4 linked regions of the Homo sapiens genome follow. The protein of the gene in region 1 purifies or fractionates together with the protein of each later gene. This does not show direct contact. Each region holds a gene or a part of one and is shown in the gene's direction. Other genes may lie near its edges. The genes, in order: ZNRF1, TSEN2, NMT2 and NCEH1.

Region 1 (7,034 bases):
TCCATTCCTTACTGTGTAGGACCATCATGTCCTTCTGCAAGACATCGAGCATACCTACTAAATGCTGATAGCATCCAGCAGTTCAGTGTGTCACCCCAAAATGTCCCCAAGAATTCCCAAATGCCCTCTGGGGTGTGGGTGGTATCACTCTGGTTGAGAACCACTGCTTTAGGGATTTATTCTTTTATTCACATAAAGTAATTGGCTTTTCCTGTGCATTTCATTTGAGATGAATCTTCGTGTGCAGCATTGGTTCCATCTCACCTGAAACAGACCATGGGATCTTCCAGGACATCTGTTTCCTCTGTTACACATTGCTGCAAGAAGCAAAACTTGTTTCTGCTTTGGAGCCTTTGAGTAAGGTCTAAGCAGCTTTTGCTCTTCTGTTGCAAGATTGGAAGGGTAACGATTTTGGTGCACAATTAATTAGATGCCTGGAAGTTGATATGATATGTTTGCTTGTGTTTTCAAGGTGCTCTTGCAACTCTTCATGGGCACAGAAAACAGTTGTCAGTGAAATACATGAGGGAGTTCAGTGTATACAAGGCCTTCTCAGAGAGCGTGGGCTTAGGCTGGGTCTGGAGGTAGAATACTGAAGGGCCCTGGTCCCAGCTACTCCTCTGAGCAGCTGTGACCTTGGGCAAGACATATCCCCTCTCTTGAGCCTTATCTTTGTCGTTTTTAAAATAGTTGTGGTCACCCTCACGAGCTCCAGCCTTGCTCCGCAAATCCCGGGAGAGGAAGCGCTGTAGTCACATTTGTCTTCTCTAGGTTCCTGACTTCCCTGTGCTGTGACCCCCACGTATACCATTCCCTAATCCTAGAGTGCTTTTCTCTCCGTTCTTCACACGAATTTCTCTTTCTGATCCCTTAGGGCTTAGAGACCACTCTTAAAAATTGGCCCCTCCGGTTATTCTCTCCAGTCACTCACCTGTTACCTTAATCATTCTTTTTTTTGAGACAGAGTTTCGCTCTTGTTGCCCAGGCTGGAGTGCAGTGGTGCGACCTCTGCTCACTGCAGTCTCCGCCTCCCGGGTTCAAGCAATTCTCCTGCCTCAGCCTCCCGAGTAGCTGGGATTACTGGCATGCGCCACCATGCCCAATAAGCTTGGGGCTAATTTTGTTTTTTGTAGAGACGGGATTTCTCCATGTTTATCAGGCTGGTCTCAAACTCCCGACCTCAGGTGATCTGCCTGACCCGGCCTCCCAAAGTGATAGGATTACAGGCGTGAGCCACTGCGCCCTGCACCTTAATCATTCTTAACACACTTTGTAAGTATTTTATCTGTTTACTTTTTTCTGTGTATGGTTTGCCTAAAGTCTAAGCTCCGTGAGAGCAGGACTGTGTTCCTTGATCTCTGTTGTGGGTCCTGCACTGTGCCTGCCACTCACATTTTTTGAGTACATGAATTTGAGTACTTTATGTTCATCATCTCACTTAATCATCACTCTGACTCTATGGAGTAAGACTGTTCTCTCCCACCCCCATTGTGCAGGTAAGGAAACAGGTTTGGGGAGGTTAAGGAACTCACACAAGATCAGGTGGTTAGTAGGTGGTGGAGATGGGATTGGAATGCAGGTTGGCTGGTGCCAGAACCTGGGCTCTTAACCAGTACCCTCTTCCGCCTCTTATCTGAAAACATCACAAAGCCGCATGGTGTCCTGGAGATTGCGCTGGCCTACGAGTCAGAGTGCTAGGCTCATCTCCTGGTTAGGCAGCTGATTAGCTGCATGATTTGTGACCTTGGGCAAGCGAGTCATTTAACCTCAGTCACAATTTATTCATCTGTAAAATGTAGAAGACGCCTGTCCTGCTTACCTCTCAGAGTCATAGTGAGGGTCTCATGAGATAATGTGCACAAAAGTCAAAGGACATTCTAAATGGAGAGTGGTGGAGTTCCTATGGGGGCACTCTCTTATAGTTGTCTGCCTTCAATCGCCTCAGATTTTTTTTTTTTTTCTTTTGAGACAGGGTCTTATTCTGTCACCCAGGCTGGAGTGCAGTGGCGAGATCATAGCTCACTGCAGTCTCAGACTCCTGGGCTCAGTTGATCCTCCCAGCTTGGCTTCCCAAAGTGCTGGGACCACAGGCATGAGCCACCGTGCCAGGCCTAATGGTCTCAGAATTTGATGGGTGGAGAGAGGTTTACAGCTGTGCTAGCTGTAGCCCCCAAATGGAATCTGGTTCTGTGTCCTAAAGTCTGGCCTGCATTAGTGGGCTGCTTTTACTCATAATGCCGCTGATAAGGGCTGCTTTATAGAAGCAGAGTGACTCCCTTTCCACGTTAAAAAGTTTTGCTATAACTCCTGATGGCTGCCTCGGTGCTATTCTGGAGGCCTGGTCATTCTCTTTCGGTAGTTCTGTTTGTCTCAGAGTATGGATTTCTAAATGTGGGGTACAAAACATGCACCATCCACCATGTTGAAAGAAGTTGCTGTTTTCTAGGTTCTACTATAAAAGGGCTGGCCATTGAGGGCTTCACTTCACCTTCTTAGTCATATGTGTATATATATGTATGCACTTTCAGAAAGTCTAAACTGTTCTTTATTGTCATCAAGCCATCAACTGAGACTGATACAAGGTGATTGTGTTTTGTTTTTGTTATTTATTTATTTTTGAGACAGGGTCTTGCTCTGTTGCCCAGGCTGGAGTGCCATGGTGCAATCATGGTTCACTGTAGCCTCAAACTCTTGGGCTCAAGCCGTCTTCCCATCTCAGCTTCCAGAGTAGCTGGGACTCAGGTGCGCACCACTACACCTGGCTAAATTTTATACAATCTTTTGTAGAGATGAGGTCTCACTATGTTGCCTAGGCTGGCCTCAAACTCCGGGCTTTAAGCAATCCTCCCACCTCAACCTCCCAAGGTATTGGGATTATAGGCATAAGCCACCACGCCTGGCCCAACGTGGCTTTTAATAAGTCTTTGAACATGCTAGGAGGTATCTCTTGGGCTCTATTTTGCTGCCACTGTAGGGTTCTCAAGTGATTTAATTTTCTTTTATTGTTAGCTAATGGGGGAGAATTGCCAGCTCCCTTGGAGTGAATCAGAAAGCCTTTGTGTCCCGCCATAGGTGTGCTAGAAGTAATGGGCCTTCACATGGTTTCTGGAGAAGGAAAAGCATTCTGTGGTCTCCAAAGAGCATGATGGGTCTCCTGCCCTGCAAAAGTTCTATTGTTAATGAAAACTTGTATTAAAAAGCAGAATTTTTAGCTCTTTATTACCATGAGGGCTTATTTTCTTAAAATACAAAAGTTACCCCGAGGCAAAGATAATTTCTTGAAGGTCATAGTTAACTCTTGCTTATTGAGGTTTGAATGGTGTTGTAAGAAACAGTGGCTTAGCTCTTAAAGCGTTTGCTTTATGGGATACTACATTTTGATATTAAACAAAGACCCACCTCAATATATCATGTCACAAGGAATACTTAGGCCATTCTTAGCCAAAGAAATGAAGCAAGCTCTAGTTCCTTTTGGGAAAAGGAACATGCTTTGTATTTTACATATGTGGTATTCACCCCAAGCTTATTGGGCACAGAAATTTGAGTATAGTAGTTACTCCCTATCCAAAGGGGATTCGTTCCAATACCCACAGTGGATGCCTGAAACCGTGGATAGTACCTCACCTGAACCCTATATCTACTATGTCTTTTCCTGTATATACATACCTTTGATAAAGTTTTATTTATAAATTAGGCACAATAAAAGCTCGACAGCAGTAACTAATAATAGAACAATTATAACAATATACTGTGATAAAAGTTATGTGAATGTGTTCTCTCTCTCTCTCTCCCTGTCTCGAAAGTACAGTCATGCATTGCTTAATGACAGGGATACTTTCTGAGAAATGGGTCATTAAGGGATTTTGTCACTGGGCAAACATCATAGGGTGTACATACACGGACCTAGGTGGTATAGCCTGCTACATACCTAGATTATATGTTGCTCCTAGTGCTCCTAGGCTACAAACCTGTGCAACATGTGACTGTATTGAACACTGTTGGCAATTGTAATACAGTTGTAAGTATTTGTGTGTCTAAACATAGAAAAGGTACAGGATATAGTCTTACGGGACCACCATCATGTATGCAGTTGCTTGTTGACCCATGCATGTAGGGTGGTGCGTCATGGTATCTTAATATTTTAGACCTCCATTGACCACGGGTAACTGAAACTATGGAAAGTGAAGCCTTGGACAAGGGGTACTGCTGTATACCCAATTATAAAACTAAGCTTCAATTTTGACAGCTTCAAAATTAGAAAAACTTCATAGGGAAGTGGTGGTAACTTAAATGGGATATTGATTCTGCTCCTACTCATCCTTAGGTAGGGGTGTTTTTAATGACAGTGGATCACTAAGGTTGTGGTTCTAGAATCTTGAAGTTAGCCCAAAACCTAAATCTTAACCTCAGTCAGTTTGTTTGTTTGTTTGTTTGTTTATTGAGACAGAGTCTCACTCTGTCACCCAGGCTGGAGTGCAGTGGCATGATCTGAGCTCACTGCAACGTCCACTTCCCGGGTTCAAGTGATTGGCCTGCCCCAGCCTCCCAAGTAGCTGGGATTACAGGCATGCACCACCACGCCTGACTAGTTTTTGTATTTTTAGTAGAGACAGGGTTTCACCATGTTGGCCAGGCTGGTCTCGAACTCCTGACCTCGGGTGATCCACCTGCCTTGGCCTCCCAGAGTGCTGGCATTACAGGCATGAGCTACCGTGCCTGGCCACCTCAGTCTTTTAGGATGATGGGTGAATATAAATTTCAGTCTGTTTCTTTTCCAAGCTTTCTCATGGCCTAGTCTGAATCAGATGGTTCATAGTAATTACCATGGGTTCAGTCTTGAGTGTGAGAAGGGGATTCTTAGAGACCCAGCAGTTTTCACTTCTGAATCTTAGGTTCTCACTAGAACACAGGTTTATCCTTGAATCCAGCAGTTGGGTTTCTGTCCTTTATGTGCTGTATGGATGAAGGATGAGTTGTGGGTATGAGTGAATAACCTGAAGACCAGCCCTCAAGTGTGAAGTGTGAAGCAAATAACCAAGTTTAATCTTTTTTTTTTTTTTTTTTTAAGACAGGGTCTCGCTTTGTTCAGGCTGGAGTGCAGTGGCACGATCATGGCTCACTGCAGCCTCAGCCTGTAGGGCTCAAGCGATCCTCCTTCCTCAGCCTCCTGAGTAGCTGGGACTACAGGCGGATGCCGCTACGCCTGGCTAATTTTTAATTTTGTGTAGATGGGGTCTCCATTTGTTGCCCAGGCTGGTCTTAAACTCCTGGGCTCAAGCGATCCTCCTGCCTCAGCCTCCTAAAGTGCTGGGATTACAGGTGTCAGCGACGATGCCAGACCCCAAATTTAATCCTAAAGCAGCAGCTGAAATAGTTTCTAGACTGATGAGACTGTTTACCTTGAGACCTCCCTAGAGTCGTTAGTCTTGAACACACAGCTTTCCTCTGTTGGGAGAAAGGAGGAAGGAATAATTCACTGGATCCCTGTGAATTCCAACTTAGGGGAGGCATGATAAGAATTTATAGTGACCTCTTGGATCTGTAACAAGAAAGAGGCAGATAAAAACAAGAGCTCTCCTGATTTCTGTGAATGGTTCAGAAGGGTTCTTAAAGGTGCTCAGTATTCTCTAGGGAGGTAGTTAACGATGCAGATGACTGGACCCCACTCACAGAATTCAGTAGAGCTGGAGACCCAAGAATCTAAGTTTGTAACAAATGAACCTGAAAACAAGAAGACCTTCTACATCTGAAACTAAACTCCACCAAGCATTTAGTTTTTCTCTCCCCAAACAGAGAAATAAACTTTGAATCCTTTTTTGGTGTATTCATTAGCTTTCTTTTTATTTGTTTTTTCTTCTTATTTTTCTTTAGAGAAAGGTTTTTCTTCTGTTGCCCGGGCTGGAGTGCAATAGCAAGATCACGCTCACTGCAGCCTGGAACTCCTGGTCTCAAGCAATTCTCAAGCCTTAGCCTCTGGAGTATCTGGGACTACAGATGCTATGCTACCATGACCAGATAATTTTTTTACTTTTTTTTTCTTTTTTCGGTAGAGAAGGGGTCTCACCATGTTGCCCAGGCTGGTCTTGAACTCCTGGCCTCAAGTGAGCCTTCCACCTCAGCTTCCCAAAATACTGGGATTATAAGTGTGAAGCCACTGTGCCTGGCCTTTATTTTCAGTATTTCTAGTCAGATATTTGCTAAGCAATCTCTACAGCTCGCAGAAGGTAGGTTCAACCAGGAACAACATTGTTGGCTATTTGATGGTTTTCTTTTACATGGGACTAAGCATTATTGCCTACATATAGGGCCAAGCCAATCTGCCTTGGTCTGAGAATTGAAGTTGCTCTGAACAGAAGGTAATGGTGTCAGTGTCGCCTTTCCTTCTGCACTTGTCTTCCTCCTGACTTTTCTTCTTTGGCTCTGGTGCTACAGAAGGGCTTCCTGAGTTACCCTCTTTCCTACATCTTCAGCCAGGCAGCTAGACAAGTCAAGAGCTTAGGATGAATCTAGGCTTTAAAGAGGTTGGAAGACCTGTTTTTCCTTTTCTCTGACTGACCCAAAAGTATAAGACTTTTTTTTCTTTGTGTGTGATGATCTGTTGAACAAAAACGTTCATTTATTCCATTGATAGCCTCTGGTATACCAGGACCTATGGTAGGTGCTGAGAATATATATATTTATTATAGAGCAATTAACTTATTCTTTCCAAGAATCTTTGCTTCCTCACTCCTTAAGAGTCTGAATATTTTAGCTTCTGGGAGATTTTACCTTTTCATCAGCTCCTCTGTTGAATAAACAAATAAATGTAGGTGTTTGTCCATAAGGCTGCTGCAAGGATATACTTCTCTTCACTCATTTTTTTCCAAAGCCCTATTTCTGGGTTGGGGCAGGTGATCTTTTCTTTGTGATTCCAGCTAAGTACCTACCAAGAAATTCCTCGTATGTCTCAGTATGAGGGGTCCTCTGTCCTCTCAGTGAGAATATCAAAAGAAAAACTGATTTTCAGACTCTTCATGTGCATCTTTAATTTCAGT
Region 2 (4,713 bases), on another chromosome or scaffold:
TCCGTCTCAAAAAAAAAAAAAAAAAAAATTAGTTAGTATTAGTGCCTAAACAGTTGTGTGAATTTACAGCTTTCACATTGGGAAAAGTATTTGTTTTTTCCTGTAAGTTTTGGAATCAGCCTGAAAGTTTGTAACTTAAAGTATGAATTTTTCATTAATATTTTCTCAATAGCAATTTAGGGGAATTTAGAATCAGATGATGCAAATTTCATTTTCTGTATATTTGTTCTTGGTAGGACAAATATTCTTTTTAAACAGATTTATTTCATGATTACTTTTAACATGCTTTTTCTGTATTTTCCAGTTATTCTGTCATTATCGAGCTAGTTGATGACCATTTTGAAGGCTCTCTCCGCAGGCCTCTCAGTTGGAAGTCCCTGGCTGCCTTGAGCAGAGTTTCCGTTAATGTCTCTAAGGTAACACAACATCAGCTTTGCCATTGGAGTGTCACTTAAATGGTTCAGTTTTTTTTTTTTTCTTAAATGTAGTAGAATCAAAAAAGTTAGTTGTAGAAACTTCATAACATTCCTGCCAGTGACATGCTGGAAGATTTGGGGTCATTCGTACCCTTCCCTTATTGCGCTAGAAGTTGTCCTCCCCTCATGTTACATTTTATTGTCCCCTCCCTCCCAACTGCTGCTGAGCTCCAATGACGGAGCTTTGGAGTGTCCCATGGTGATCTGATCTGGGTAGGCATTGCTTCTCTTCCCAGGGGTATCGTTGCTATGTGACTTGTTTTATACTGCAATTTAACATTCACTCATACACATATTCACAAAGGAGTCAAAACATTGAAAGTTTGCAGATCTCTTAGAGAGGAAGGGACTTGATATTTGTTGCTAAGCACTTTCCCACCCTGTTGTTATCCTCATCCTGAGGATGAGAAACCAAGGTTGGAGCCGTTGAGTGGCTAATCCAAGATCACACAGCTCATGTGCATACTCGGGATCCAAACCCACAGCTCTCTGGCTCCCTGGCTTTTGTTTCACTATATCCTTCGTGTTGCCATCAGAGATAGGAGGGACTCAGCTTACACAAGGACTATCAAGAAAGAAAGCTGTGTGTGTTCTCATTACTCAGTGATTTGCTGGCTGAAAACAAATTGTAGATACCCTCTAATTTCATCCTCATGCTGCTGGAGGTGAGGTGGGGCTGAGGCCAGAGGGTCTTGCAGGGCTAGAGATGACTGCCCTTTAGAGCAGGTTAGGTTGCCTAGGCTTTAGCTTGGTCCTATAGAAAATTAGGGAGCCTATACTGTTTCTAGAATTTTTATGCCCATTTTAGGGGACTTGTAGCATATACTTAATATGTCCTCACTTAACATTGTTGATATGTTCTTGGAAACTGCAACTTTAATGTCGTATAACAAAACCGTTTTTTCTTCTCATCATTTCAAGAAAACAATGTTGAAGTTTATTTGAAGACCTGCTGTACATCTGTATTAGTCCATTCTCATGCTGCTATAAAGAAATACTTGAGACTGGGTAATTTATAATGAAAAGAGGTTTAATTGACTCACAGTTCCATGTGGCTGGGGAGGCCTCAGGAAACTTACAATCATAGTGGAAGGCACCTCTTCAGAGGGTGGCAGGAGCAAGAATGAGAGGATGAGTGAAGGAGGAAGCCCCTTATAAAACCATCACATCTCATGAGAACTCACTGTCACAAGAACAGCATGGGGACCGTCCCCCATAATCTAATCACCTCCCACGAGGTCCCTCCATGACACGTGGGGATTGTGGGAACTACAAGATGAGATTTGGGTGGGGGCACAGCCAAACCGTATCAACATCATTTCACTTAAAGTCCGTGTCCAAGAACCTATCAAGGACATTTGAGGACTTACTATATTTAGTATTCTTAATGCTGTGTTTATAATCAATGTATCTGCTTATATCTGTTGCCATGTTCAGTGATTACTAAACGGCAGGTACTTAGTCAGAACGTAAATCCCAGTTATGGTTTCCCCAGGAGGAAACTGATGTGCTCTGTGAGTTTCCACTTGGAGTGCACAGTGAGAGGGACTGGAGACCACCTGCATTTCCTGCTGATGCACCCAAATTTGTACTATTATTTTGTAGGATACAGAAGTGGTTTTTCATTTCTCAATAGGAACTTATGCTGTGCTATTTGATTAAACCCTCTACTATGACTGACAAGGAAATGGAGTCACCAGAATGTATGAAAAGGATTAAAGTTCAGGTGGGTAAACTCAGAGAAATTCATGTCATCCCAAAGATTCTGTGAATCATAGTGTATCTGGAACATGTGGTCCCAAGAAAATACATGAATACAGTTTTGCCTTGGTAACAGAGCCTTCTCAGGCAGGCTCTTAAGTCTCTCACCTTTTCCCCATTGAACCCATTGGACACGAAATCTATGCTGACTTCCTCTATTCCTTAATTCCCCACTTTATTACCTGTGATGTCCCCATCACTCAGCTGAAACTGCTCTCTTACAGGTGGCCTGTGACCCCCTGGCCAGGCCAGGACTTCTCACAGGTCTCATTCCCAGAGACCAGAGGTGTCCCTGTTGACTTGTTCCTGCTTCTGGGCTTCTGTATTGAACCAAGGCGCCTCCTGTCATCTTGGCTTGTTTCTCTCTGGTCTGGCCGAGTTGTCTAGTGTGTGTCCGTGTTTCTGCATTCCCTCCCTCTGTGTGTAGAGCCTTAACGTTGCCATTGGCTCCTCCCAACATCCAGTATGTCTTTGTTGTCGTCCTGTCTTCTTTTCACACCACCCTGCCCCTGCAGACCTGCTGGTCGGTCTCCAGGGCCCCAGCACGTCTTCCCTTCAGTTGGTCCCACTTATCTCCACTAGGCTAGTTTCTCATAAAATGCTCATCAACCTCATTTCTCCCTTCTCAGTAGCTGGCCCCGTTACAGCAATGCCATCACAGACCTAGCTCTAATGTAAAATGCTAGCTTTCATCCCGCCCACCTGTTTCTGAAATGTGCTAGTAGAATACCACAGCAGAGGCAAGCTTAGCTGTTAAAATCTTTGCCTGGTGAAAGTAGATACTGTATGCTTGTAAGGTTTATATTGTTACATTCATTTTCTCCAGATGTTTCTGTTCTAAAGGTGGGAACAGTATCATCATTATATAGACCGCCCTTTGTGAAATGTAGCTGTGGTGTCAGCTGTGGTGTCAGAATGGTCTTACATTTCTGTTTTAAGAAATGGTCTTTTTTTTTATTGGTTGTAGGAGGTGATTCTGAGTCGATGGGTTTCTTCACGAGAGAGGAGTGACCAAGACGATCTTTAACAATTCAACCTCAAATTTCTAATTTCACCAACAACTATTTATTGAGGGCTAGGTAAAAAGTTCTTTTTGTTGTAATCGTCCATTAATTCATAAGTTTTAAAGGGCATGGTGCTCCCAGCACCAGAAAACTATCAGTGTTTTTAAAGATAAATTACACAAGGGAGGAGAAAGATCCCTGTGCTAGGACTGCAGATTCTATACTTGCGTTGGCCTCTAACTCTCCAATCCAGAGCCTCCTGCCTCTGGCGTCAGTCTTTTCCCTCATCCACTCACTGGGGAGATTGGACTAGAGGAGTCCTGAGAGGACACTTCCAACAAGAGACATTTATTCTCTGATTTTACCTGAAAATGGTAGTAGTTTACATTTATACAGTACAGTTTATGAAGCACTTTCATACGCAGGCATCTCTTGTTACCTACATCTAAGCTGTTCCCGAAAGAGTGTTACAGAACACAACAGTATTGTACAATATTCGATAAGCATATCTTCACTGCACTTGTTATAAAAATGAGTGGTGAAATAATGTTTGGAGACATAATGAAAGCGATTAACATTTGGCAAAATATAATAAAGCCTTTTTGTAATTGGTGAGAAAGTCATGAAGACTTAAGTTGCCTCAGGGCATCTGGTGGCAAGAGGAGGGAGATGGGTGGCTGGGCATGGTGGCCCATACCTATAATCCCAGCACTTGGGAGGCCTTGGGAGGCCAAGGCGCATGGATCGCTTGAGCCCAGGAGTTGGAGACCAGCTTGGGCAACATGGTGAAACCTCCTCTCTACTAACAAAAATTATCCAAGCATTGTAGCACATGCCTGTAATTCCAGCTGCTCAGGAGACTAAGGTAGGAGGATCGCTTGAGCCCAGGAGGAAGAGGTTGCAGTGAGCGGAGATTGTGCCACTGCAATCCAGCCTGAGCAATAGAGCAAGGTCCTGTCTCAAAAAAAAAAAAAAAAAAAAAAAAAAATGTGGGTGGTGGGGAAATGGGAAGGGGGAATACTTGCTCTTCGGTGGTAGAATACTTAGGCTAAGGTGGTAGCCTGAGCTGTATCCTCTTAATGGGTCCAGACACTACTTGAATGATATTGCTGCAAACCCTTACATGTTTGTTATATTTAATTTGGATAGCCAATATGGGGTAAAATATTTTGCAAACCGTGATAGCAAACATTTGGAGAGTGGGAGTTGAGATGCGGCAGATGCCTGTGTATTTATCCCTGCAGCAGCCTTGTGAATTCAGGAGGAGGGACCCACAGAGGGGTGTTTGAAGCTCAGAGATGTTGGCGGGTGTGCATCACTACCAGTCATGCACGTGGAGGACTGGACCTGAGATCACTATCTCAGCTGAAATGGCGCTATCCTAAAAATTGCATGCAGTCAGAAATAGAGCCCTGTTTGGTGGTGGTGGTGGTTAACAAGGAAGGCCACCCACCACATCGGGCAGGGCCAGC
Region 3 (7,034 bases), on another chromosome or scaffold:
TAGAGATGGGGTTTCACCATGTTTGCCAGGCTGGTCTCGAACTTCTGACCTTAGGTGATATGCTTGCCTCGGCCTCCCAAAGTGCTGGGATTACAGGTGTAAGCCAGTGTAAAGAGTTAAATGTACTCTTTAACTTTTTGGTCCACCCAAGCGTGGAAGTGGCAAACCACTATAAAACTTTCATGAATTACAAAAAACATGGGGGAAGAAGGGATTGTCAGTTTTAATTAGTGAGACTATATTCAGACAAGTATAATTTTATTATTTTCAAACAATGTTTGGCAATTAGAACCAGGCTAATAGAGGATTGCCTAAAGACATCTTTATATAACTTACTTTAACACACGATTTGCAATTAGAATTAGGGAGTAGGTCTTTATAAAGAGCTTGAAGGAGCCTGGAAAGACTTTCTACATAGATAAAAATTAACCTCAGTCCAGCTTCCTATATGAATTATTAGAAATAGTCCAGATTACTGAAGATTTCTGTTCTGCTATGGGTGGCAGTGGTACAAAAAGGTGACCTGGAGGATGATTTTTTTTTTTTTTTTGAGATGGAGTTTTGCTCTTGTCACCCAGGCTGGAGTGCAATAGTACGATCTTGGCGCACTGCAACCTCCACCTCCCGGGTTCAAGCAATTCTCCTGCCTCAGCCTCCCAAGTAGCTGGGATTACAGGCGTGCATCACCACGCCCAGCTAATTTTGTATTTTTAATAGAGACAGGATTTTACCGTGTTGGTTAGGCTGGTCTCAAACTCCTGACCTGAGGTGATCCCCACCTCTGCATCCCAAAGTGCTGGGATTACAGGCGTGTGCCACCATACCTGGCTAATTTTGTATTTTTAGTAGAGATGGGGTTTTACCATGTTGGTCAGGCTGGTCTTGAACTCCTGACCTCAGGTGATCCCCTGGCCTCGGCCTCCCAAAGTGCTGGGATTACAGGCCATGGTGCCCGGCCTGGAGGATGAATTTCCTAGGAGCTTTCACCGTTGGATCTGAGGTTAAGATGCTCAAGGATCTTTAATACTTCCCTCATTTTGCTGTGTTTTTGCCTTCTGTTACTTTCTTCTGAAGGGCTTTGGGGACATTGAGGACAGGCCAAATTGTTGAAGAATTATTTAGAACCCACTGTCTTCTCGCTGTCCTTTTGATGTCCGGCTTCTCCAGTTATGAAATACATTTGGTATTGGTCATGATCTCTTACTGAGCTAATGTTATGGTCCATTGTTGGAGACAGAGTCAAATAAAATTCGTGTTGAACTTTGGTAACAAAACCAAATCTGTCCCCTTGCTTAACCAACATTGACTTACAGAGAGCATATACTTCCTAGAAAAATAGATGTTTCTCATAGCTTTCCGTTAAGAGAGCTTTTCCCTCAATATTCACTGGAAGCAGCTACTAAGAAGATTTATATAGGAACCAAAATAAACATAGGTGAGTATGTTTTTGTTGGCAGATACATGACTAAATTAGTCCCTGGGGTAGACATGAAATAGGGTTAAGACCTTTTTTTTTTTTTTTTTTTTTTTTGAGACCAATTCTCGCTCTGTCCCCCAGGCTGAAGTGCAGTGGCGCGATCTCGGCTCACTGCAAGCTCTGCCTCCCAGGTTCACGCCATTCTCTTGCCTCAGCTTCCGGAGTAGCTGGGACTACAGTAGGCGCCCGCCACCACGCCTGGCTAATTTTTTTGTATTTTTAGTAGAGACGGGGTTTCACCATGTTAGCCAGGATGGTCTCCATCTCCTGACCTTGTGATCCGCCCGCCTCGGCCTCCCAAAGTGCTGGGATTACAGGCGTGAGCCACCGTCCCCGGCCTAAGACGTTTTTAAGAGTTCTTTTTCTTAGAAAGATTGAAGATCTGGTATTGGACAAAGATGAAAACTTTGGAATTCTTTTAACAAAGAACATAATCTGTCTTCTACCATCCCCAATTTAGGGGGTAAAAAAAGGAAGTTCTTCTTTGGGCACTATGTTGTTGTATCTGACTTCATATGTCTGTTGTTGAAATTGAGTTGGGAACTTCCCCTTTGTCAGCTGTGTGGTATCAGTGGGAAAATGCAGAAACATTATGACTTGCAATAAGTTTTTCTTATGGAAAATTTAGGGATAACTCAAAGCTGCCCTTTCTGAAATTTGATCTGTTATCAACTGTATAAATCTAAATGGAAAAATAGATTAACGACAGTCTTTGCCTGAGGGACCTCCTCAAATCAAGAACTACTGTTTGAAATGATCAAGTGTCTGCTAAGACTTGCATCTGAATGGGTGATGTCACCCTTTGGCCCAGAACAAATTTTTTCCAGGGTTGTCTAAATATAGGACACATACTTTGCCATCTTTGTTTGTTAGTGCAAATGTACGTTATACATCTATACTAGTTAAAATCACTTTATTTTAACAGAACCAAGTTCTACTCCAAGTTCAAGAAATTGATTGTTGTTTTCTTTGAAAACATGTTAATGACGTTTTAAAAATACGCTTATTCAAAAATCAAACAATAGGGCCAGGTGTGGTGGCTCATGCCTGTCATCCCAGTGCTTTGGGAAGCCAAGGTGGAGGATCGCTTGAGGCCAAGAATTCAAGATCAACCTGGGGAACATAGCAAGACCCTATCTCGATGAAATAAAAAATGAGCTAGACATGGTGGTGCATGCGTATAGTTCCAGCTACTTGGGAGGCTGAGATGGGAGAATTGCTTCAGCCCAGAGAGCTGTGATCGCACTACTGTACTCCAGCCTGGGCAACAGAATGAGACTCTGTCTAAAAATATACATATATATATATCTCTCTCTTATATGTATATATTTATATATATCACATATATAAATATCAAAAGATATCAAATATATAGATATATAAATATCAAATATATAGAGATATATAAATATCAAATACAGATATATAATATCAAATACATAGAGATATATAAATCAAATATATATATAAATAAAATATATATATATATCAAACAATAAGGTATATAAGGTAGAGTGAAAGCCCCTGGTCACCTTATTTCCCAGAGCTGTCACCACTGATAGTTTAATGAACTCACTTTTTAATATGTGTGTGTGTTTAACATCGCTGGGATCTTACTGTACCTGGGTGCATTTGTTACCATGTATGTTTCGCTGACTCTTATTGTTGTGTGCTGGAACTTTCTGGGGTGATAGTAATCCAGTTGGGCAGTCATCAACACATGGAGCACTTGCATGTGACAAGTGTGACTGAGCTGAATGTTTTTATTTTATTTGAATTAATTTAAATTTAAATAGCTCCATGTGACTAGTGGCTATCATACTGGACAGCTCAGATCATATTCAGTCTTTGAATTTTGTTTATAAGCTTTCTTGGTACTCAAAAATTTCTGTATTTTATTTCCTGTCTTTGGTAGAATATGTCTAGTTTTCATTCTTTTTTTCTTCTGTGGATTATCTGTACACTTTTTTTTTTTTTTTTTTTTTGAGACAAGGTCTCACTCTGTCATCTGGGCTGGAGTGCAGTGGCACAATCTCAGCTCACTACAGCCTTGACCTCCTGGACTCAAGTGATCCTCCCACCTCAGCCTCTCAAGTAGCTAGGACTACAGGCACATGCCACCACACCTGGCTAATTTTTGTATTTTTGTAGAGACAGGGTCTCACTATGTTGTCTAGGCTGGTCTCGAACTCCTGAACTCAAGCAGTTCACCCACCTCCGTCTCCCAAAGTGTTGGGACTACAGGCGTGAGCCACCGTGCCCGGCGATCTGTACATTTTGAACAAGTATGTTTTCATCTATATTTCTTTATCCATATCAAAAAATTAACCACTATTTAAAATATTCTACCATCTCACAAGAAAAATCATGTAGGATATTTTGACTTCTTTTCATTTCCTAGGTTTAATTGAAATAACCTGGAATTGTAATTCTTTTATTTTTGCCCTTGTGTCACTAGAGACTTTTTTCTTAACTATTACATGTTTCACATTCCTGTTAACAAAAACATTTTAGACTTTCCTGACAGCTTTATTGTTTTTATGGGTTTCCATCGTTCTTTATAAAACACATCCTCCCGGCCAGGCGTGGTGGCTCGCACCTGTAATCCCAGCACTTTGGGAGGCCGGGGTGGGCGGATCACCTGAGGTCAGGAGTTCGAGACCAGCCTGGACAACATGGTGAAACCCCATCTCTACTAAAAATACAAAAAAACATTAGCCAGGTGTGGTGGCGGGCGTATGTAATCTCAGCTACTCGGGAGGCTGAGGCAGGCAGGAGAATCACTTGAACCCAGGAGGTGGAGGTTGCAGTGAGTCGAGATTGCACCATTGCACTCCAGCCTGGGCGACAGAGCAAGACTCTGTCTCAAAAAAATAAAAGTAAAAAATAAAACACATCCTGTCTTTTTCTTCTTTAACAGCATTCTCACATGATTTTTTTTCTTAGAGTGCGTGGATGATGTATTTTGAGTTCTTGCATGTCTGAAAATGCCATTCTTTTCCCCTCCCACATAATACATAGCCTGGGTGTGCATGTGACTCTATGATAACAATCGTTTTCCTTGAAACTCCATAAACGTTTTAATATCTTCCAGTATTTACTGGTACAGATGTTGTTTTCTTTGTGTTTTTTTTTTTTTTTTTTTTTTTTTTTTTGATTTTTGAGGCAGAGTCTCGCTCTGTCACCCAGGCCAGGCTGGTCTCGAACTCCTGACCTTGACCTCAGGTGATCCACCTGACTCGGTTCCCCAAAGTGCTGGGACTACAGGTGTGAGCCACTGTGCCTGGCCAGATGCTGTTTTCTCTGCTTCTCTGTCTTTTATAGGTAATCTTATTCTTTTTGTCTGTTTTAACTTGTTTTCAGTCTAGAAGCTTCTGGCATTTTTTCCCTGTTGTTCTATTACCAAAGGGTTTCCATGTCCTTTCACATGCTGGGATCGCCTGTCCTTTATTTTTTATTTTTTGCAATGGAGTCTTACTCTGTTGCCCAGGCTGGAGTGCAGTGTCGTCATCTTTGCTCACTGCAACGTCCACCTCCCAGGTTCAAGCGATTCTCCTGCCTCAGCCTCCCAAGTAGGCAGGATTATAGACGCACACTACCATGCCTAGCTAATTTTTGTATTTTTAGTAGAGACGGGGTTTCACCACGTTGGCCGGCTGGTCTCGAACTCCTGACCTCAAGGAATCTCCCCACCTCAGCCTCCCAAAGTGCTGGGATTACAGGTGTGAGCCACTGCACCTGGCACCTTTCCTTTACTATCTAAACAAAATGGCCTGAGCTGATACATGTTCATGGGGGTTTCTTGGGGTCTTAAGTTTTCATGGTCCTCAGGCACACCCACACTGCAGCCAACTTGCCCCATCACCGGGCTCCTTGTGCCTGTGTGTCCTTAGGGTGCTCTTTTTCTTCAACATTTGACCTTGGGTGGAACACGGTTATCTTCAGTTCTGTGTCTCTCACCACCCTCCTCCCAGGAATCACTAAAATCCAGCTATTGTGCACAGCATTTGCTGAAGCGTTTGTGGCTAATGGGGAGGGAGGGAGGTCTGATTACAGAGTAGCGCAGAAAACAACTTTGAATTCAGTGTCAGACATCATTGTTCACCAAGAGGAATTTGTTACTGCTCACGCCTTTCTGTGGGTCATGGCTTCCTCTGCTTCTGAGAGTGTCTCCTGATCTTTCTTCTCCTCTTCTCTAAGTTCAAGGTCAGCCCAAATGTCCTTTCTTTCATGAAGCCTTCCGCAGCCACTATGACCAAAGGCGCTGACCCCTGCCGGAAGCCCTGTAGCTCTTAGTGAGTGTATCTTTCCCGTGACATCTTTCCCAGTTGCTCTCACCTCATCTCCCCAGCCCTCTGCTCGGGAAGACCCTCATTCTCCTGCCCCAAGCTGTGGCTCCTAGAGGTGAGTTCCTTGTCCACAATCACAAATGGGAGATGTGGGTCTTTGCGTCTGTTGCTTAATGTGTGTGTAGCATCTACCAACCAGCTAGAGTAAAAGGTTTTATTTTGCTGGGCGCAGTGGCTCACGCCTGTAATCCCAGCACTTTGGGAGGCCGAGGCGGGTGGATCACCTGAGGTCAGTAGTTCGAGAGCAGCCTGGGCTACATGGTGAAACCCCATCTCTACTGAAAATACAAAAATCAGTCTGGCACGATGGCGGGCACCTGTAATCCCAGCTAATCGGGAGGCTGAGGCAGAATTGCTTGAACCCGAGAGATGGAGATCACTTTATAAGCACATACTGCAGTGAGCCGAGATTGTGCCACTGTACTCCAGTGAGCCTGGGCGACAGTGAGACTCTGTCTCAATAAATAAATAAATAAATAAATAAATAAATATTTTAAGGAGGTTTTATTTAAATATACAATAGGTTATCTGAAAATAAAGTATGGCTGGACTTTATTAGAATTAAACATTATAGAAAGTCAAGTACCCAAGGTCCATCTGTCTTTCTAACCTCTCTCCCTTTCTGTCTCAGTCTCTGTCAACTAGACTGCCCCAAGCATCTGTTCCTTAGTTCAGATTCTCCAGAAAGGATCTCACTGGTTTCTGGCCAAGAAAGGGATTATCCAGGCATGATCCAGTCCACTGTGATGGAGAAGGGAAAGGGAGGGGTAGAAGAGAATTGTGTGGTACAACATGGCCACTGAGGGCCACACCTTTGGTGAGACCTGTGGGCAAAGGGAGTTTTCAGGGAAGGACATAGTGAACAATGCTGGCACCTTGCTGGGACTGAATTGTATCTCCCTGCCAATTCATATGTTGAAGCCTAAATCCCCAACGTGATGGTGTCTGGAGGTGGCACCTTTGGGGGGTAAATAGCTTACAAGGGTGGAGTCCCCATGAATCGGATCAGTGTATGCTTATAAAGAGATAGAGTCCAGTGCTTTGTTGCTCTGCCAAGAATAAGGCCCTCACCAAAAACCTGACCCTGCTGGCACCCTGATCTTGGTGGACTTCCAGCCTCCAGAACTGTAAGAAATAAATGTCTTTTCTTTAAGTAATCAGTCTATCGTATTCTGTAATAGCAGGCTGAACTAAGACACACCTCAAAA
Region 4 (7,034 bases), on another chromosome or scaffold:
CATTTGATTTTATCTACAATGAATGTCAAGATGTTTAATTACCTAGCAGGATTTTATTTTGAGACAGGGTCTTGCTCTTTCGCCCAGGTCTTGTTCTTTCGATCTCAGCTCACTGCAACTTCCACTTCCTGGGTTCAAGTGATTCTCAGGCCTCAGCCTCCCAACTAGCTGGGATTACAGGTGCATACCACCATGCCCGGCTATTTTTTTTTTGAGATGGAGTCTTGCTCTGTCACCCAGGCTGGAGTGCAGTGGCACCATCTCGGCTCACTGCAACCTCCGCCTCCTGGGTTCAAGTGATTTTCCTGCCTCAGCCTCCTGAGTAGTTGGGATTACAGGCGCCCACGACCGTGCCTGGCTAATTTTTGTATTTTTAGTAGAAACGGGTTTTCACCATGTTGGTCAGGCTGGTCTCGAACTCCTGACCTCAGGTGATCTGACTGCCTCTGCCTCCCAAAGTGCTGGGATTACAGACCTAAGCCACCGCACCTGGCCCTTTTTTTGTATTTTTAGTAGAGATGGGGTTTCACCATGTTGGCCAGGCTGGTCTTGAATTCCTGATCTCAAGTGATCCACCTGCCTCAGCCTCCCAAAGTGCTGGGATTACAGGTGTGAGCCACCGCTCTCAGCCCAACTAGCTGGATTTTAGACTGTGGAAAATAAATGTCTTTATTTAGAGTAGCTTAGAAAAAATTAGTTTGTGAAAATAAGTATGCTAATTATAAGATGGAAATCAAAAGTCTTGAGTCTTCATTGGCTGTTATTAATTTTTAATTAGGTAATTAGTTTTTATCCTACCTAATTTTGGTCTGTTTTTGAGTTTTTGCAAATCAAGTAACTTTTGTATGCCTTAGTTTCTTCGTTTGCAAAATGAAGGTATGTTAATACTCAAAAAAGATTTATTGGATGGATGATTATGTGCCCCTCACATTGGCAGATACTGGAAGCACAGTTATGAATAAAACACAGTTCCTGATATCAGAGAACACAATCTTTAGGAAAAACATATGATAATTTTCATATGAGCCAATAAGAACAGTGAGTGACGTACCCTGGCACATAGAAATATCAAGGAATGGTAGCCAGTTCAAGCCCAAAAGCAAGTGGAGATATGACCAAGGAAGGCTGCCCAGAGGAGGCCAAACCCTCCAGTTAAGGCTTAAAGGATGAGTGAGAATTAATAAGCAAAAGAGGGGAGTAGAGAGTGAGAGGGAACTCTAAACCAAGATTGCCAATGTAGATGTGTAAGATAACACTATGGGTGAGGCATTTGACAAAACCAGAGCTTTCTGGGAATCTTAAGGGGATATGAATTCTACTAGGTGTACAGAGTAGGATTCCAAAGGACTCTGATCTTGCGAAGTGGGGCCAGTTGGAGAAGCCCCAGAAGTATCCCCGAGGGCCTGCTCTAGGCCGTCTGGAAAACTTAGCTTCCCTTTTGTGAGTTAACAACCGGCCTTTTAGTTACAGTCTTCCAGGTATTGAATGCATTTCTTGGGTTTAATGTCAGGCTAATATGGACCTCTCCAGTGAAGTACAGTTTTATTATATGAAGTAAATGATGGACTCATTAAATGTGAGATCAATGAAGTGGTTAATCCTGCCAAGTCACCTCGTAACCCAGAGGCATTATGAATGGAATGCTGACTTCCAGAAATAAAATTCTAAAATCTATTACGGTGCTATCCATGTCTTTGTAATGAACATTCGCCTTTTACTTGTTAGTTTTATTTTGGTTGTTCTTGGTGGTAAGTAGGTTTGGTTTGGTGGCTGATAGTTTAAAGAAAAATAGTACTATTACTAATACAAAATCATCACATTTTAAACTAAGTATTTGATTTGCAAGAAAATGGTTTATTTTTATATTTTATTATTTTTTCTTTTTCATACAATAATTCCATTGAATTAATTTCTTATCTATTTCCAGATTTAAAAGAACCAGTTTCCATCTAAACTTTAAATGTCCCCCAAAATTGGAGAAGGCCTTAAATGAATACAACTTTTGTTTTTACAGATACAGGCTAGTTCCAAAGGTTTATTTTCCTGAGCAAATTCATGATGTTGTACGGGCCACAAAGTATTTCCTGAAGCCAGAAGTCTTACAGAAGTATATGGTTGATCCAGGCAGAATTTGCATTTCTGGTGACAGTGCTGGTGGAAATCTGGCTGCTGCCCTTGGACAACAGGTAACACCACTGTCCTAAGGTGCTGGTGGGTTAAGCGGTGCATGACAAGGTCTAGCAGACCAACACACCCTCCATTATGTGTGGCAAATGCATAGCTGGGTGGGCCGGTCACTAGATGGCCAAATTGTTCATGTGATTACACTTGTAGAGCTCTCAGAGATCTCGTTGAAGTAGGAAGATGAGTCATTGGAGGAAGTATCACCTATGAGTCTTTGTAAAGTCCCTGATTACAGTCAGTGTTAGAGAAGGGCTGACATCCCTTGCTTCTCAGGGCTATGTATGGAACTCCAGTATCCCCTGCTCCTTTTTCATGTTTGACTTGCAAATCGGAGTATTTTTGCTTAAATTCCAGTTCCTAAGATTGTTCCTTACAACTTTGAGCCAAATTAAAACCTTAAAATTTGTTTCCCCAACTTTTTTTTAATGTAAAAGAAAGAAATTAAACGATTCAGCCATTTAAATATTATCTTACAAGTTACTATGAGCTTTACCTGGTTTAATTCTTTGAAAACTATATCTAGCTTCTAATAGCACCCCAATTTTTTTGGCAAGTGGGAAAAAGCACATTTTCTTCCTGTTATGGATGAAGTAACTTAAGACATCTTTGTCTTCTCACCTCCAAATTTCATTTGGTGTCCTCAAATACCATCTGTCATTCTAATTATGATGTACCTTGGCTTCTAACTCTTTTGCTATAATTCAAGAACTTGATTTTCCATTTGGCATTGGCAAGTTTTCCATCCAAATATGGTCAGAAGAGAGTCTTGGCTCAGTGGAGAGAACATTCTTGGCTTTGAAGCCAGACAGCACTGGGATCTAACCCAGGACCCACCGTTGAGTGCTGCGGGGCCCTGGATAAGTCCCTTAACCTCTCTGAGCCTCAGAAAAACGAGGACAGTGTCATCTGATTGCAGGGCTGTTGCAAGGACTTAGTGAGGTGATGTGTATACAATTTTTGGCACATATTCAAAGTGCTATTTACTGACCATTCTTGCTTTTGGAGAGCAGTCATATCTCACCTGGGAATGGGTTTCTAAAGTCCAAGTATGAAGCAGAAGTGTATGGCTAAAGTTACCTTGAAGATCATTTAGTTGTCTATGAAGCTTCATGACTAGTTAGCTTTCTTTTAGATGTTACACGACAAATATATAATTTTGCACACTAGAATTACAAAATGGGGCAATGTTAACACTGTGGGGAGGTGTTGGGGGACTGAGATCTGTTGAGGTAGGGGATTCATTCACATTCCCATGACAACTTCACTCTGGCATATGCTCATTATGTAGAATGGAGGGTGCATTGCCAGAACTATTTAAATTCTGTCTCACCAAGCGTGAAGATGCTCACCAGAAAGCATACCCTGAGGTCCTACTTAAACACTCAGGAGTCTCATAATCTGCTTATTAAGTTTTTTCTGCCCCTCTCTTCTGGAAGAATAAGACTAATTTTTTTCCCCCTAGGAAGCCATGACCTTTTTGGGGGTTTTGTAGGGAATAAAAAATTAAATAAGGTTCACACATTATCCATTCATAATACCTAGGTGTCTTAACTGCCTAAAGATAGATACAAGTACAGGGTTCACTCAAAACTGAGTTGTAAACATCATACCTTTCTTAGTTAAATATCTAGCAGCTTGATAGGGTGGTGATGGTAATGATGGAGAATTATTTTTTAAACTTTATTATTTATACAGTGCCTGGTAGAAATGTAACACTTATACCATTGACAGATTCAGAGTAACACATGAAGCTACTCTACAGGGTATGGTTCCTATAAAAGAAGGCATGCAAAATGAAATAATGTATTTGCTTCCTCTTCTCTAGTTTACTCAAGATGCCAGCCTAAAAAATAAGCTCAAACTACAAGCTTTAATTTATCCAGTTCTTCAAGCTTTAGATTTTAACACACCATCTTATCAGCAAAATGTGAACACCCCAATCCTGCCCCGCTATGTCATGGTGAAGTATTGGGTGGACTACTTCAAAGGCAACTATGACTTTGTGCAGGCAATGATCGTTAACAATCACACTTCACTTGATGTGGAAGAGGCTGCTGCTGTCAGGGCCCGTCTAAACTGGACATCCCTCTTGCCTGCATCCTTCACAAAGAACTACAAGCCTGTTGTACAGACCACAGGCAATGCCAGGATTGTCCAGGAGCTTCCTCAGTTGCTGGATGCCCGCTCCGCCCCACTCATTGCAGACCAGGCAGTGCTGCAGCTCCTCCCAAAGACCTACATTCTGACGTGTGAGCATGATGTCCTCAGAGACGATGGCATCATGTATGCCAAGCGTTTGGAGAGTGCCGGTGTGGAGGTGACCCTGGATCACTTTGAGGATGGCTTTCACGGATGTATGATTTTCACTAGCTGGCCCACCAACTTCTCAGTGGGAATCCGGACTAGGAATAGTTACATCAAGTGGCTAGATCAAAACCTGTAAAGGAGCAAAACTTCCAGAAGCCTCGAGCCCCTCTTGACCTCCTACACCTGCTTTGGAAAGACATGCACTTTTTAGTTGACTAATTCTTCCTCCCATTCCCCTCTACTTGCGAGTTATGGAATTTCTATTCCATAACTGAAGTCTTTATGATAACCTAATTTTTAAAAATGAATTTGACTAACTTAAGTGCAAAACATGTAAATTTGGTTCCCAGAGTGGGCCAATCTCTCTGTTCTTGTTATCTTAGCCAACTATACTGATACCTACAGCTACAGAAAGCAGGACTAGGAACTGGAAATAACTTTGGGTCCTGCCTTCATTAGGACGTTCTTTTTAGAAGCAGTTCTTCCAGCTCTGGATCATAGAGTGACCTTTAATAAGTTAAAAAAACGAGGACTCCTTAATTCTGCTAGAGTTAACCTTGAGTTCAGAGCAGTATTAAATGCGTGCACTTTCAGGTCAGTACTGGGGACCAAGTACCCTCTGGTCTTTTGTGAATGGATGGTTTTGTTTCCTATGGGAATTTTGGCAAAGGTTTTCTGGAAAGAACAAGTTTCTCAAAGGACTTTCTTCCTCTAGAATGTTCATTTTATGAGATCGCTATCTGTAAGTCCAGTTGGATTACAGGAATACTTGAAAGTTACTTTCTACCACTATTAGAAAATATGAAGTCGCATGCACTGGATATCTATATATCATTAGGTTTTTGTTGTGTTTTTGGTTATGCTGTCCCCCTTCTCCTTGGGGAGATATTTGGGAGCAAACTTATTTAGATTTAGAGTAAACTTTTCATTATAGAGCAAGTAAAAACAGACAAATGAAACAACCTAGTGTTTCACATAAAAATACTTCTGACATAAAGTACCAAGAGCAGTGTGAATATACTTGGCATAGTCAAAAAAGAAAATACATTTAATATTAGTTCAAAATTGTTAAAAATACCTTTAGAAGGTCTAGTCTATTATTGAAAACTCAATTTTTTCACTTATATGGCTTTAAAATGGAGCTATTTTGCTACAATATAATGTATTGTTTATTTTTTTAAGTTATTTAATGTTAATATACATAGCTAGACTTAAGGTTTTTCAGAAAGATGTCCATAATAAATATTAAAAACAATGGTATTTTTTAAAAAACTGCCTTAGGGTTTTAAAACCTTCCCTACAGTTATAACCACGTGTAATTTTGTGGAAATGATATAACAGCTATTAATACTACTATAACATAGGCATAAATATTTTCGTGTTTATATGCATATACAAGTTAAAATAATTAGAAACTATGACTGCGCCTAGTAAAGTCATCTAGGTTTATAGTTCAGTAGCTTAGGCAAGGCACACACTGCTCATCTCCGCTTTTTAGGGTCAGAGGAACACAAGCTCATGTTCTGAGTGAAGGGCGTACACTGGCACCTGGTGTTGCCTAGATCCCCCATCTCCTCCTTCCAGCCAGGTCTGGAAGTTTCAACAGCCCAAGCTTAACTTCATGTAAAGTCTTCACTGCCAGTGGGAACATCTTTGACACAACAAGACACTCCAATTGTGATTTGAGTTGAGGATCTCTGCCTGCCTTCCTGCCGTCCTTCCTTCTTCCCCGATCCATGCTACTTTTAGGGGCTGCGGAGAGCAGCAGCAGAGCTGAGTAATGATACAGGGCACCACGGAGAGAAAGTAGAACCATTTCACTCCTGGGAAGATGGGGTATTTCCCACTTCCAGCAACGAAATAACAAATGAAAAGTTGCATACTTATTGATGTATTGTATGAGCCAGTAGCATTTTATGTACAAAACAGAAGTCAATGCAACAGTATGTATGTGTGCCTGTGTGTGTATAAAAATAACCATTGAAGCTAACTTGCTAATGTACTTAGGCAAGCCACTTCCCATCTCTGGGCCTCGTCTTTCCTCCCTCTAAAATCAAAGAGCTGAATTATGTGATCCTTGAGGTCTCTTCCACTTATAATACCAACTGTCTTGTCAGACTGGCAAATTATATTGGCCTCTCCTTATGTGGTGGTTTTTTTGGTAGGTCATAGTTCCTTATACACAGACACCTGCATCATCGAAGGTCTTTTTTTCCTAAAAAAAAAAAATGGGATTTTAGTTCTTATTCTGTGATAACTATCCTCCTCATATAATACTATTCTTTTTGACACCATTTGAAGGAACCAATATTTGGACCTTATTTTGAGGTTGTCTGTCTCGAAGAAAAAGAAAATAAAATGTATAGGCAGGGTTCCTTCAATTGGCATTTTCCCCAGAATTGTGAGCCAAAGCCTATAGTAATTGCAGACAGCAAATGATTCCGGATCTCTAAAAGGCTCTCTCAGATGAAAAGGGAGTAAAGGAAAAAAGAGGTCAACCACTGTTTCTGATAATGTACTTGAGTTTCATTGTTCTTTTAGTT

The links.
Region 2: the proteins of ZNRF1 (region 1) and TSEN2 purify together in Homo sapiens (affinity purification with mass spectrometry; 2 studies listed by BioGRID and IntAct, with this or other methods). This does not show direct contact.
Region 3: the proteins of ZNRF1 (region 1) and NMT2 purify together in Homo sapiens (affinity purification with mass spectrometry; 3 studies listed by BioGRID and IntAct, with this or other methods). This does not show direct contact.
Region 4: the proteins of ZNRF1 (region 1) and NCEH1 purify together in Homo sapiens (affinity purification with mass spectrometry; 2 studies listed by BioGRID and IntAct, with this or other methods). This does not show direct contact.

What each region holds. Positions count from the first base shown.
Region 1 is NC_000016.10:75,002,014-75,009,047, forward strand, and holds part of ZNRF1 (E3 ubiquitin-protein ligase ZNRF1), read left to right. Parts: intron 1-229; coding exon of another isoform or gene 230-357; exon of another isoform or gene 358-5,065; intron 5,066-7,034. UniProt on the Homo sapiens protein: E3 ubiquitin-protein ligase that plays a role in different processes including cell differentiation, receptor recycling or regulation of inflammation. Mediates the ubiquitination of AKT1 and GLUL, thereby playing a role in neuron cells differentiation.
Region 2 is NC_000003.12:12,529,458-12,534,170, forward strand, and holds the end of TSEN2 (tRNA-splicing endonuclease subunit Sen2), read left to right. Parts: intron 1-304; coding exon 305-416; intron 417-1,397; coding exon of another isoform or gene 1,398-1,421; exon of another isoform or gene 1,422-1,705; intron 1,706-2,112; coding exon 2,113-2,202; intron 2,203-3,204; coding exon 3,205-3,264; 3' UTR 3,265-4,201; downstream 4,202-4,713.
Region 3 is NC_000010.11:15,158,680-15,165,713, reverse strand, and holds part of NMT2 (glycylpeptide N-tetradecanoyltransferase 2), read left to right. Parts: intron 1-5,677; exon of another isoform or gene 5,678-5,881; intron 5,882-7,034.
Region 4 is NC_000003.12:172,631,068-172,638,101, reverse strand, and holds part of NCEH1 (neutral cholesterol ester hydrolase 1), read left to right. Parts: intron 1-2,014; coding exon 2,015-2,186; intron 2,187-4,009; coding exon 4,010-4,627; 3' UTR 4,628-7,034.